Linked DNA regions of Homo sapiens. The protein of the gene in region 2 interacts with the protein of the main gene of each other region in a biochemical or structural test. Each region holds a gene or a part of one and is shown on either strand. Other genes may lie near its edges.

The links.
Region 1: the proteins of MPP7 (region 2) and MYOT interact in a test that uses a peptide from one of them, tested with the Homo sapiens proteins (one large-scale study listed by IntAct).
Region 3: the proteins of MPP7 (region 2) and SLC9A3 interact in a test that uses a peptide from one of them, tested with the Homo sapiens proteins (one large-scale study listed by IntAct).

The regions. Positions count from the first base shown.
Region 1 is NC_000005.10:137,877,854-137,881,512, reverse strand, and holds part of MYOT (myotilin), read right to left. Parts: intron 1,206-3,659; exon of another isoform or gene 698-1,205; coding exon 648-697; exon of another isoform or gene 1-647. UniProt on the Homo sapiens protein: Component of a complex of multiple actin cross-linking proteins. Involved in the control of myofibril assembly and stability at the Z lines in muscle cells.
Region 2 is NC_000010.11:28,050,393-28,052,837, forward strand, and holds the end of MPP7 (MAGUK p55 subfamily member 7), read right to left. Parts: 3' UTR 601-2,445; downstream 1-600. UniProt on the Homo sapiens protein: Acts as an important adapter that promotes epithelial cell polarity and tight junction formation via its interaction with DLG1. Involved in the assembly of protein complexes at sites of cell-cell contact.
Region 3 is NC_000005.10:514,397-518,055, reverse strand, and holds part of SLC9A3 (sodium/hydrogen exchanger 3 isoform 1 precursor), read left to right. Parts: intron 1-3,659. UniProt on the Homo sapiens protein: Plasma membrane Na(+)/H(+) antiporter. Exchanges intracellular H(+) ions for extracellular Na(+) in 1:1 stoichiometry, playing a key role in salt and fluid absorption and pH homeostasis.

The DNA.
Region 1 (3,659 bases), on a different chromosome or scaffold from region 2:
TTGTATTTTTAGTAGAGATGGGGTTTCACTATGTTGGTCAGCCTGGTCTTGAACTCCTGACCTCAGGTGATCTACCCACCTCGGCCTTCCAAAGTACTGGGATTACAGGTGTGAGCCACTGCGTCCAGCCTAGCCATCAAATTTGAAACCACAGAATCTACTGTTTGATCTGATAGTGTAATAACAATGAAGAGAGGCCTTAGGGCTGTATTTACCTGTGGCATATTTGATGACTATTAGAAATGGTAGCAATTTAGAAACATCTGGTACAAATTGTACATCTTAGTTTCTCTTTTACAGTGCCATGAATTGATGAAGAAATGGTCTATTAAAATGCCCAGTACCCAGCAGATTATTCTTACCACCAAAGATTGTATAATAAGAATTAGGTCTCCATTGTCATGAGAAAATTGTTTAATATAGAAGCATGATCCTGGCTTATTTGACCAAAACATTAAAAAATTCCCCTGTGATAGTTTTGATGATGAACGTCAAAATTTTGGTCATCTTCTCAGACATTAGAAAATACACATTGTATTTTTCAAAAGGTATAGAGTAGGCTCGAGGGCTTTATAAATATTACATTTTTAAGCTGAAAATATTTTAGATAGGAAAACATACATTTCTTTAAAATTAAAATTTTTTACCTTACTTGTGATGTAGGAACTTGCAGTCGCGCATGTTCTGAGTTGTGTTGCTTGAAATTAAAACAAAGTAAGAATGTTTACATGCAATTGTTAGCTTGAATGAAGCAGAATTAAGTAGTTACAGTTGAAAGGAACATTCCTATTTTGGCTGTATTTGAACAGCCCTGGTAAGTTCTATATATTCAGCTTTTAAGCCCTTAAAGTACAGTGCACTAACATACTACCACTCTAGCAAGAAGCCCAGAATTAATGGGACTATTCAACAAGTATTATTTATGAAAATTAGCTAGACTTGGAATTGATGGTGGTTCATTTTTCAGATGACTATTTTATGACAAAGGGTGATGTGTCTCCCTGGTGCATTTGAAATGGGAGCACAGAGTACAGATTGTCCTTTAGTAAAACAGGAATAGACATGAAGTCACTTGTATTGGCAGTAGCTGCAGGGTATTATGCCTGCTGCTCAAAAGTGGCACCAACAGCAGTAAACACATATTAGACTGGAAAATTCTTCTCTTTTTAGCTCGTGGCACAAAATCCTGATGGACTCCACGAAAGGTATGTGTAAGGCTTTGAAAAAGCTTTGTAAAATAGCATTAATTCCTGTTTAATAAAGTTGTATTTAAGCAGACATCTTTTAGGATTTATATCCGAACAGCAGAAAATTATTTCTATTTGAGAATAAAATCAGGGATTTATGAAAATTATAAGAGAACTAATTGATTAAGTAGTGTGTATTTTGCGTTTCACTGTGCTTAGCACAGTGGGAGATACAAAGTGGAAAACACAGTCCCTACCCAAAGCTCTGTAGGAGCACACAAGATCTGAGTACAAATAATTTGCTTTGGGATGAATCTATTTAGCTAATGTATTTTGTCATTTTTAAGGCAAAAGTCTTACAACTCTGTAACAATTTTTGGCTAGCCTTAAGGTTCTCTAAGCAAAATATCAAGACAACTGGTCAATTCAGTGATCAAACAAATCAACTAATTTTTTGGTAAAGTAAAAGTAATCCAATTAAAAATATCCAGGCTGGGCACAGTGGCTCACGCCTGTAATCCTAGCACTTTGGGAGGCCGAGGCAGGTGGATCATGAGGTCAGGAGATCGAGACCATCCTGGGTAACAAGGTGAAATCCTGTCTCTACTAAAAATACAAAAAAAAAAAAAAAAAAAAAGCCGGGTGTGGTGGCAGGTGCCTGTAGTCCCAGCTACTCGGGAGGCTGAGGCAGGAGAACGGCATGGACCCGGGAGGCGGAGCTTGCAGTGAGCCGAGATCGCGCCATTGTACTCCAGCCTGGGTGACAGAGCAAGACTCCGTCTCAAAAAAAAAAAAAAAAAAAAAAAAAAGATGAACCATCATCAGTATAATATTGCTTTGAGTAATTCCCCTAATAGTGATGAGTTTGTGTCTCATTTTTGCTATAATCTTCCATACCAAGTGCAGAGCCCAACATACAAGTAGGTTCTCCATGTAAATTAGTTGAATGAACGAATTCATGAACTGTTTAGTAGCCAAAAATAAATTTAAGTTCTCTTTTCAGTTTCTAGTTCTTGCTCTGGTAGACCCTCTTCCATCCTTTTTAGTAGGTGTAGTTGCATCAAACAGAACCAAAAAACTTAATTTCAAAGGCCAGGTGTGGTGGCTCATGCCTGTAATCCCAGCACTTTGGGAGGCTGAGGTAGGCAGATCACTTGAGCTCAGGAGTTTGAGACCAGCCTGGGTAACATGGTGAAATCACCGTCTCTGCTAAAAAATACAAAAACTAGCCAGCACGGTGTGCGCACCTATAGTCCCATCTATTTGGGAGTCTGAGGCACGAGAATCACTTGAACTTGGGAAGTAGATGTTGGAAAAAAAAAACTGAATTTCAGTTTTCTACATTTGGAAGCTAGGAATATTTGTGTTCCTGGTTTAATCTCTTTGGCTCCCAGTTTCTTGTGGACTTTTTGGAGGGAATGGAAGGTAACTATGAAGGAAGAAAGAGTGCTAACATTCAGTCTACCTGTCCAACTGAACATTTTTCTTTTTTCTTTTTTGTGTTTGAGATGGAGTCTCTCTCTCACCCAGGCTGGAGTGCAGTGGCATGATTTTGGCTCACTGCAACCTCCATCTCACGGGTTCAAGCGATTCTTCTGCCTCAGCCTCCTGAGTAGCTGGGACTACAGGCGCAGGCCACCACGCCCAGCTAATTTTTGTATTTTTAGTAGAGACTGGGTTTCACCATTTTGGCCAGCATCCCCTCGATCTCTTGACCTCGTGATCCACCCACCTCGGCCTCCCAAAGTGCTGGGATTACAGGCGTGAGCCACTGTGCCCAGCCACCAACTGTACATTTTTCTTTGGGGTTAAGTTTACTTGTTAAAATCAAGTTGAGGCCAGGCGTGGTGGCTCATGCCTATAATCCTAGCACTTTTGGAGGCCGAGGCGTTCCAGCCTGGCCAGCATGGTGAAACCCCATCTCTACTAAAAATACAAAAATTAGCTGGGCCTGATGGTGTGCGCCTGTAATCCCAGCTACTTGAGAGGCTGAGGCAGGAGAATCACTTGAACCTGGGAGGTGGAGTTTGCAGTGTGCTGAGATTGTGCCACTGCACTCCAGCCTGCCTGGGTGACAGAGCAAGACTGTCTCAAAAAAAAAAAAAAAAAAATCGATCAGGTGCAAACCTGTGGGATGTGCCACCATAAAGTTAAACCCTTCTTGGAAAGGATACATTTGTTAATCTTAGAACAATTACTCATGAGGGGTTTTTTTTGGTTTTCAGAAAGCATTTTTTGAAAACAGGAATATAACAAAAGGAATTGGATGTTTCATTAGTACCACAAGTATATTTTAAAACATTGAAATGTTAAACAGCTTATGAGAAAGGTTATAATTACTTTCATTTATAATCTTAATTTCTGTCCTATTGGAGGTTCACAACCCATATATTCCCTGTCCGTGTAGACACCATAGAGAGTCCTAGGTCTAACTGACCCATAAATGTCCTGATAAAAAATAATACCATTAGA
Region 2 (2,445 bases):
AGGAGCTCACAATTACTGAACACTTCTGTCCCAGGTTTTGTTCTAAGTATACATGGATTCTTTCATTTCATGCCCACACCAATCCCATGAGGTAATCACTGTTCTTGTCCCTATTTTTTTCTGATGAGAAAATGAAAAACAGAGAGGTTCAGTGTTTTTCCCAAGGCTGCAGAGCTGGAAACAGGCAAAATCAGAATGTGAACTGAAGAATTCTGACTCCAGATCCCATGCTCTTAAATGCTTTTAAATGCTCTTCAGAGCAACCTTTCTATGGATGCACAGCTGGGGCTAACTGGCTCGAGGACTGAAGCAAGGCCAATGCTAGCTAGTTTGCATAGCAGATGACAATCTGTTCCTATATGCACAGTTGAAAAAGTTGAGTTTCGCCTAACTGGAGCTCAGGAAGAGGATATGTGTGACACTGATTCCTAGTGGGAGGGAGGGAGAGGAGGTGGGGAGTGGGGGAGGTGTGTTCCCATCATTGATGGTCCTAATTCTTCCTTCCCACTAAGGTTCTCCACATTTTTAAATTGCTGGAATGTATGGGTAAGAACAACACTAGTGAATTCCATCTCTCCAACAGCCTCGATGAAAGCAGTGTTTGATTGAAAAAAATATGAAATTTAATTTTAGACATGGCAAGTTCAATTACATCACTTCATATCACAGTAGAAAATATAATTTGTTCTACCATGGGAAATAGTATAATGGAATAGATCACAATAGTAGTATAATAAAATAGAATATCCAAGTGCAAAAACAATTTTCAAGTAAGTACACACACTGTTTGAAGGTACTTTATTAAGATCAAAGATTTTTCATTACATTTATTTATAAATCCTTCCTAGTCAAAATAAAATAATAAAAATCTGTATCTTTAGAAAGAACATAGTTTTGTAAGTCTGAGAAGGTTATGTTTGTCAGTTTCAAATTATTACAGTTTAGATACATTCAATCATTACACAATACCAGGAAGGTCAGCCTTAAAGATACCAAGAACTTCCATATTGGTCAGTAAAATAAGGGTAAAAAATTAAATTTTACTTTCACCTTTTTATGTTTGATTGACTACAGTCAATAATAGGAGTACAGAATTTACTTTTTGGTCTTGATTTTTAAATATATGAATTTTAAAAAGTGAACGTTCCTCTTCTCTTACATAGTGGCTCCAACTTAGGGAGCTGGCTTCTGGAGGGAGGAGTGCTATTCTCCTTGCTGGAGAAGGAGGCTGGGGGAAGAAAGTACAGAATTCAGGGCCTTTTTGCTGCCGTTGTCAATGAACTCTCGGAGTTGGCCCTGCCTTATTAAATTTTAATCAATTATCTTTCTAAGCATCAAGATGGCCATGTAAACACTGTTTTTAAGACCACGTCTACCGGCTGGGCACGGTGGATCATGCCTGTAATCCCAGCACTTTGGGAGGCCAAGGCAGGAGGATTGCTTGAGCCCAGGAGTTCAAGACCAGCCTGAGCAACATGGCAAGACCCTGTCTCAAAAAAAAAAAAAAAAGTATACTACCTGATTTCTAAAATTACCAAAGTGCCCCCTTTTCCCCCCATTATTTAAAAAATATTGTTCTAGCTCTGCGCTTAAGGTCTGGACCTTTCTTTTTTAAAATGTTATATTTTTATAACATCTTATTATTACCACCACCAAAAAAGGACTCAGTTTCTCCCACTTTACACTATATCTCTGTCCCCAAAGTAAATAACTGAAGCAATTATCTGCAATTTTTTTAAAATGTGGGTATTTCAGGGTAAAGAATTTGGACTGCCTAAATTACTCAGGTGATTGCCTGAATTATTACATATGTCCCATCATTCTTTGTACAAGAAGTCTTGATTTATAGAAAATTTCAGACAATGTTCAAAGAAGGAAATATGCTACCCAAACAATCTACTTAAGACTTCAGGTTGGCAACCCTCCCTCTTTCATTTTTTAAAAACAAAATTTTTTGCTATTTAATTAATACACTTAGAACTCACTGTCTGGATCACGTTGTTATATAATACTTAGTCTGATTATCTATTTTGGTGTGACTATGTGTCAAGGCCATTGGAGTGGTTTTTGTCTCTGCTTCTAATATGAACTTGACAAGTATGAAGGAAAACCAGTGAATAATGCTATCAAATGTGCAGTGCACAGATCGCACACTTGGATCTATCTTTGTAAAGCTCAAATATTTACATGGAATGTTGACCATGATTTATAAAACTACTCTTTTAAATTAGGACATCTTGACATACAATCAGTTTATTTTATGAATAGCCCCGTTTGATATTTAAAAAAATATGCCTTTAAAATATTTCATAAATATATAGAATTTTACTACATTCTATTTTTTTTCACATGACATTTAAACTCTCTTTACAAATCAACAAAAAAATAACATTTTTTTTTCCACTTTGAAAGTCACAGATGCAATGATTTTCGACGGGCAGGGCT
Region 3 (3,659 bases), on a different chromosome or scaffold from region 2:
CACGTGAATGGACATGTGGATGGATGGATGGATGAGTGAATAGATAGATGGATGGATGCGTGGATTGATGAATGGATGAATGGATGAGTAAATGGATGGAAGGGTGGATGAGCGAATGGATGAATGGAGTGAATGGATGGATGGATGGATGATGGGTGGATGGATGGATAAGTGGATGGATGGATGGATGAGTGAATGGTCAGATGGGTGGATGAGTGGATGGATGGATGGATGGATGGATGGTTTGGATGGATGGATGGTTTCGGTGAATGGACGAGTGGATGGATGGGTGGATGGATGGATGGATGGGTGAATGGATGGATGGGTGGATGGCTGGATGGCTTGGGTGAATGGATGGATGGGTGGATGGATGGATGGATGGATAGATGGATGAATGAATGGATATATGAATGAGTGAATGGATAGATGGATGAGTGGATTGATAGATGGGTGAGTGAGTGGATGGATGGATAGGTGGATGGGTGAATGGATGGATGGGTGAATGGATGGATGAGTGGATTGATGGATGGATGAGTGAATGGATAGCTGGATGGATGAGTGGACTGATGGATGGATGAGTGGATGGATAGATGGCTTGGATGAATGGATGAGTGAATAGTTGGATGGGTGGATTGATGGATGGATGGATGAATGAATGGATATATGGATAAGTGAATGGATGGATGGATGAGTGGATTGATGGATGGGTGGGTGAGTGAACTCATGGATGGATGAGTGAATGAATGGATATATGGATGAGTGGATAGGTGGATGAGTGAATGGATGGATGAATGAGTGAGTGAGTGAATGGACAGATGGATGGATGGCTGATGCGTGAATGGTTGGTGGATGGATGAGTGGATTGATGGATGGATGAGTGAGTGGATGGGTGAATGGATGAGTAAATGGAGGGATGGGCGGAAGGATGGGTAGATATGTGGATGGATGGATGGATGGATGAGTGGATGGATGGATGCACCCACAGGTGGGTGAAGGAGGAATGAACGAATGAGTGGATGGACAAATGGATGGATGAATGCACACATGGGAGAGTGAAGGAGTGGAGGGATAAACATTGGCTTCCCATGTGTAAGCTTCATCCAAAACCATCTGGACACTGGGCCCAGGAAGAGGCTGTCTCAGCTCCTCGGCTGAATTATTTCCTTAAATTACTGCAGAGCCTCCAGTGAGCAGCACACCTACTTCTGGATGACAATGGCTTTAGAGGCGCCGCCTGCCAAGGAGTGGCAGACTTAACCTGCAAAGTGGGATCATTGACAAGCAATTGCAGCATCGGCTCAGAGCACTTTGGCAGATCTGGGCTCAGCATGGTGAGCACCATCTGCCCCACACAGAGCTCTCTCAGGAGTGGGTCATGTGCCCAGAGAGAAACCACGCTCACCTGGCCTAAAACATGCTCCACTGTCAGCTGAAATCTTAGCTATGCCTTAGCTATATGCCTTCTGGAATAAGACAGACAAACCCAGCCCCATCCTGATGTTGCCAGACCTCGGAAGATGCAGACACACCCTGGGCAGGCCCTGACTTGGTGCTGGAACTGCCCAACCTGGCACCCTCCTGGGACACAGAATAGAACTCGGGTCACAGGCAGCCAATACCCTTAGCATACCAACCACTTTTAGGAGCTTGAATGGTCTCATCCGTCTTATCGAGGTAGCCCAAAATGCTGGACTTTGCAGCAGCCAGCGCTCTGGGCAATGGAGGAGCTCTCTCCAGTTTAATATTCATTCAATAAACATTCAGTGCCCATCACGCCCTGTAGGCAGTGGGGATCCCACTTCAAATGAGACCCAAATATCCCATGGGGCAGCACTCCTGGGCACCAAGGACCAAAGACAGTCAGGAAGCCATCCCTGGGGCAGAGGGGGCAGCCAGCCCTGTGGGTTAGGGGGAAGCATGTCCAGGGAAGGGATAGCCAGAGCGAAGTGCCCGAGGCAAAAAGTGTGGATGAGGGTTAGGGGGAGAGTGTGTGTGTGTGTGAGGGGCAGGGGGAGTGTGTGTGTGTGAGGGGGCAGGGGGAGTGTGTGTGTGTGAGGGGCAGGGGGAGTGTGTGTGTGTGAGGGGCAGGGGGAGTGTGTGTGTGTGTGTGAGGGGCAGGGGGAGTGTGTGTGTGTGAGGGGCAGGGGGAGAGTGTGTGTGTGTGAGGGGCAGGGGGAGAGTGTGTGTGTGTGAGGGGCAGGGGGAGTGTGTGTGTGTGAGGGGCAGGGGGAGTGTGTGTGTGTGTGAGGGGCAGGGGGAGTGTGTGTGTGTGAGGGGCAGGGGGAGTGTGTGTGTGTGTGAGGGGCAGGGGGAGTGTGTGGGTGTGTGAGTGGCAGGGGTTGTGCATGGGTTTGTGAGTGGCAGGCGGTAATGTGTGGGTGTTTCAGGAGCAGCGGGATGTGTGTGTGTGTCTGAGGAGCAGGGGACCCTGTGGAGGATAAGCAGGAGCAGCAGGTGGTCCTTGCACTCTGGCCGTGTGATGACCATGTTCAGCTCTGGGTTGCTCCCTCACATTGGCGAGTGCCCTTACAAGCCTGAGCTCTGGGCTCCCTGTTCTATCCGACTGCCAGCCTTCCCTTGGGGCTGGCTGTGTGTCAAGTCCATTTCCAAAGTGTCGTGTCGTCAGTCTAGGAAGAATTGAGATGGAGCCTGGGGCCGTGTCCAGGTGGAGTCAGGAGAGCAGCCAGGGTGCCCAAGGGGTTCCCGTGTGTGCACCGTCCACAGGGGCCTGAAAGGAAGGAGGGAGGGGCGGGCAGAGCAGGAGGGGCTGTGGGAATTCCACAAATGGGGAGCGGCACATCCTGGGAATGGGCCTGGCCGTTTGTGCTGCTGTGCTGGGGGTGGTTAGGGCTGTGACAGAGACTCCAGGCTGATGGCATGGACTCTGGGGTGGGAGACCGAGAAATCTCCCCATGGACTCTGGGGTGAGGAGTGGGGGGCCGAGAAATCTCCCCATGTCTCCCCATGGAAGGCTCTGCCTTAGGGAAAGACCAGGTGACCTGTGCCAAGCTCCTGGTCCCTGGAGGGCGGCCTTTGAGTGCATCCCCGAGGGCTTTGTGCTGGACCATCCCAGCCGGGACCCCCTATCTGGCTCTGGGAGCCAGCCCTGGGGAGGGACAGAGCCAGGGTCCCCTTCTGGACTGTGCAGGGCTAGGGCAGAGGGAAGGAGCGGGAGCCAGGGACGCACTGGCAGCTTCCTCCTTTCTGGTGGATCGGGGAACCTGCAGGCTCACCGCCTGCTGAGCTGTCATGCCAAAGTCCAAGGGTTTGAGTTCTTTGTTGGGAAAGGGTTTCTTTAAGCCTGAATGGGAAAGTTGAAAATGCCTGTTTTTAAGAGCTTTGGGGGTGACACAAAGTGTGGAAGAACAGCAGCTACTGCGGGCTCCGTCCTCAGATTCAGCCCCAGATGTTTGGTGCAGAGGACACGGGGCTGACCAGACGGTGAAGGCAGATTCCCCTTAGAACCCGGCCCTCATGGGGCCCTCAGCGGGCCGTACCACTCCTTCCCCACCTACTGGATGTGGGAGCCACTGGGCAGGACTGCCTGAGGGGCCACAGTGAGCAAAGCCCCCGACAGGCAAGACCCGATGGGCCTCGGGGGGCAGGGTGGGCCCCAGGAAGGGGGAGCCAGCGGCCACTGGTCTTGGGTGACTCTGCAG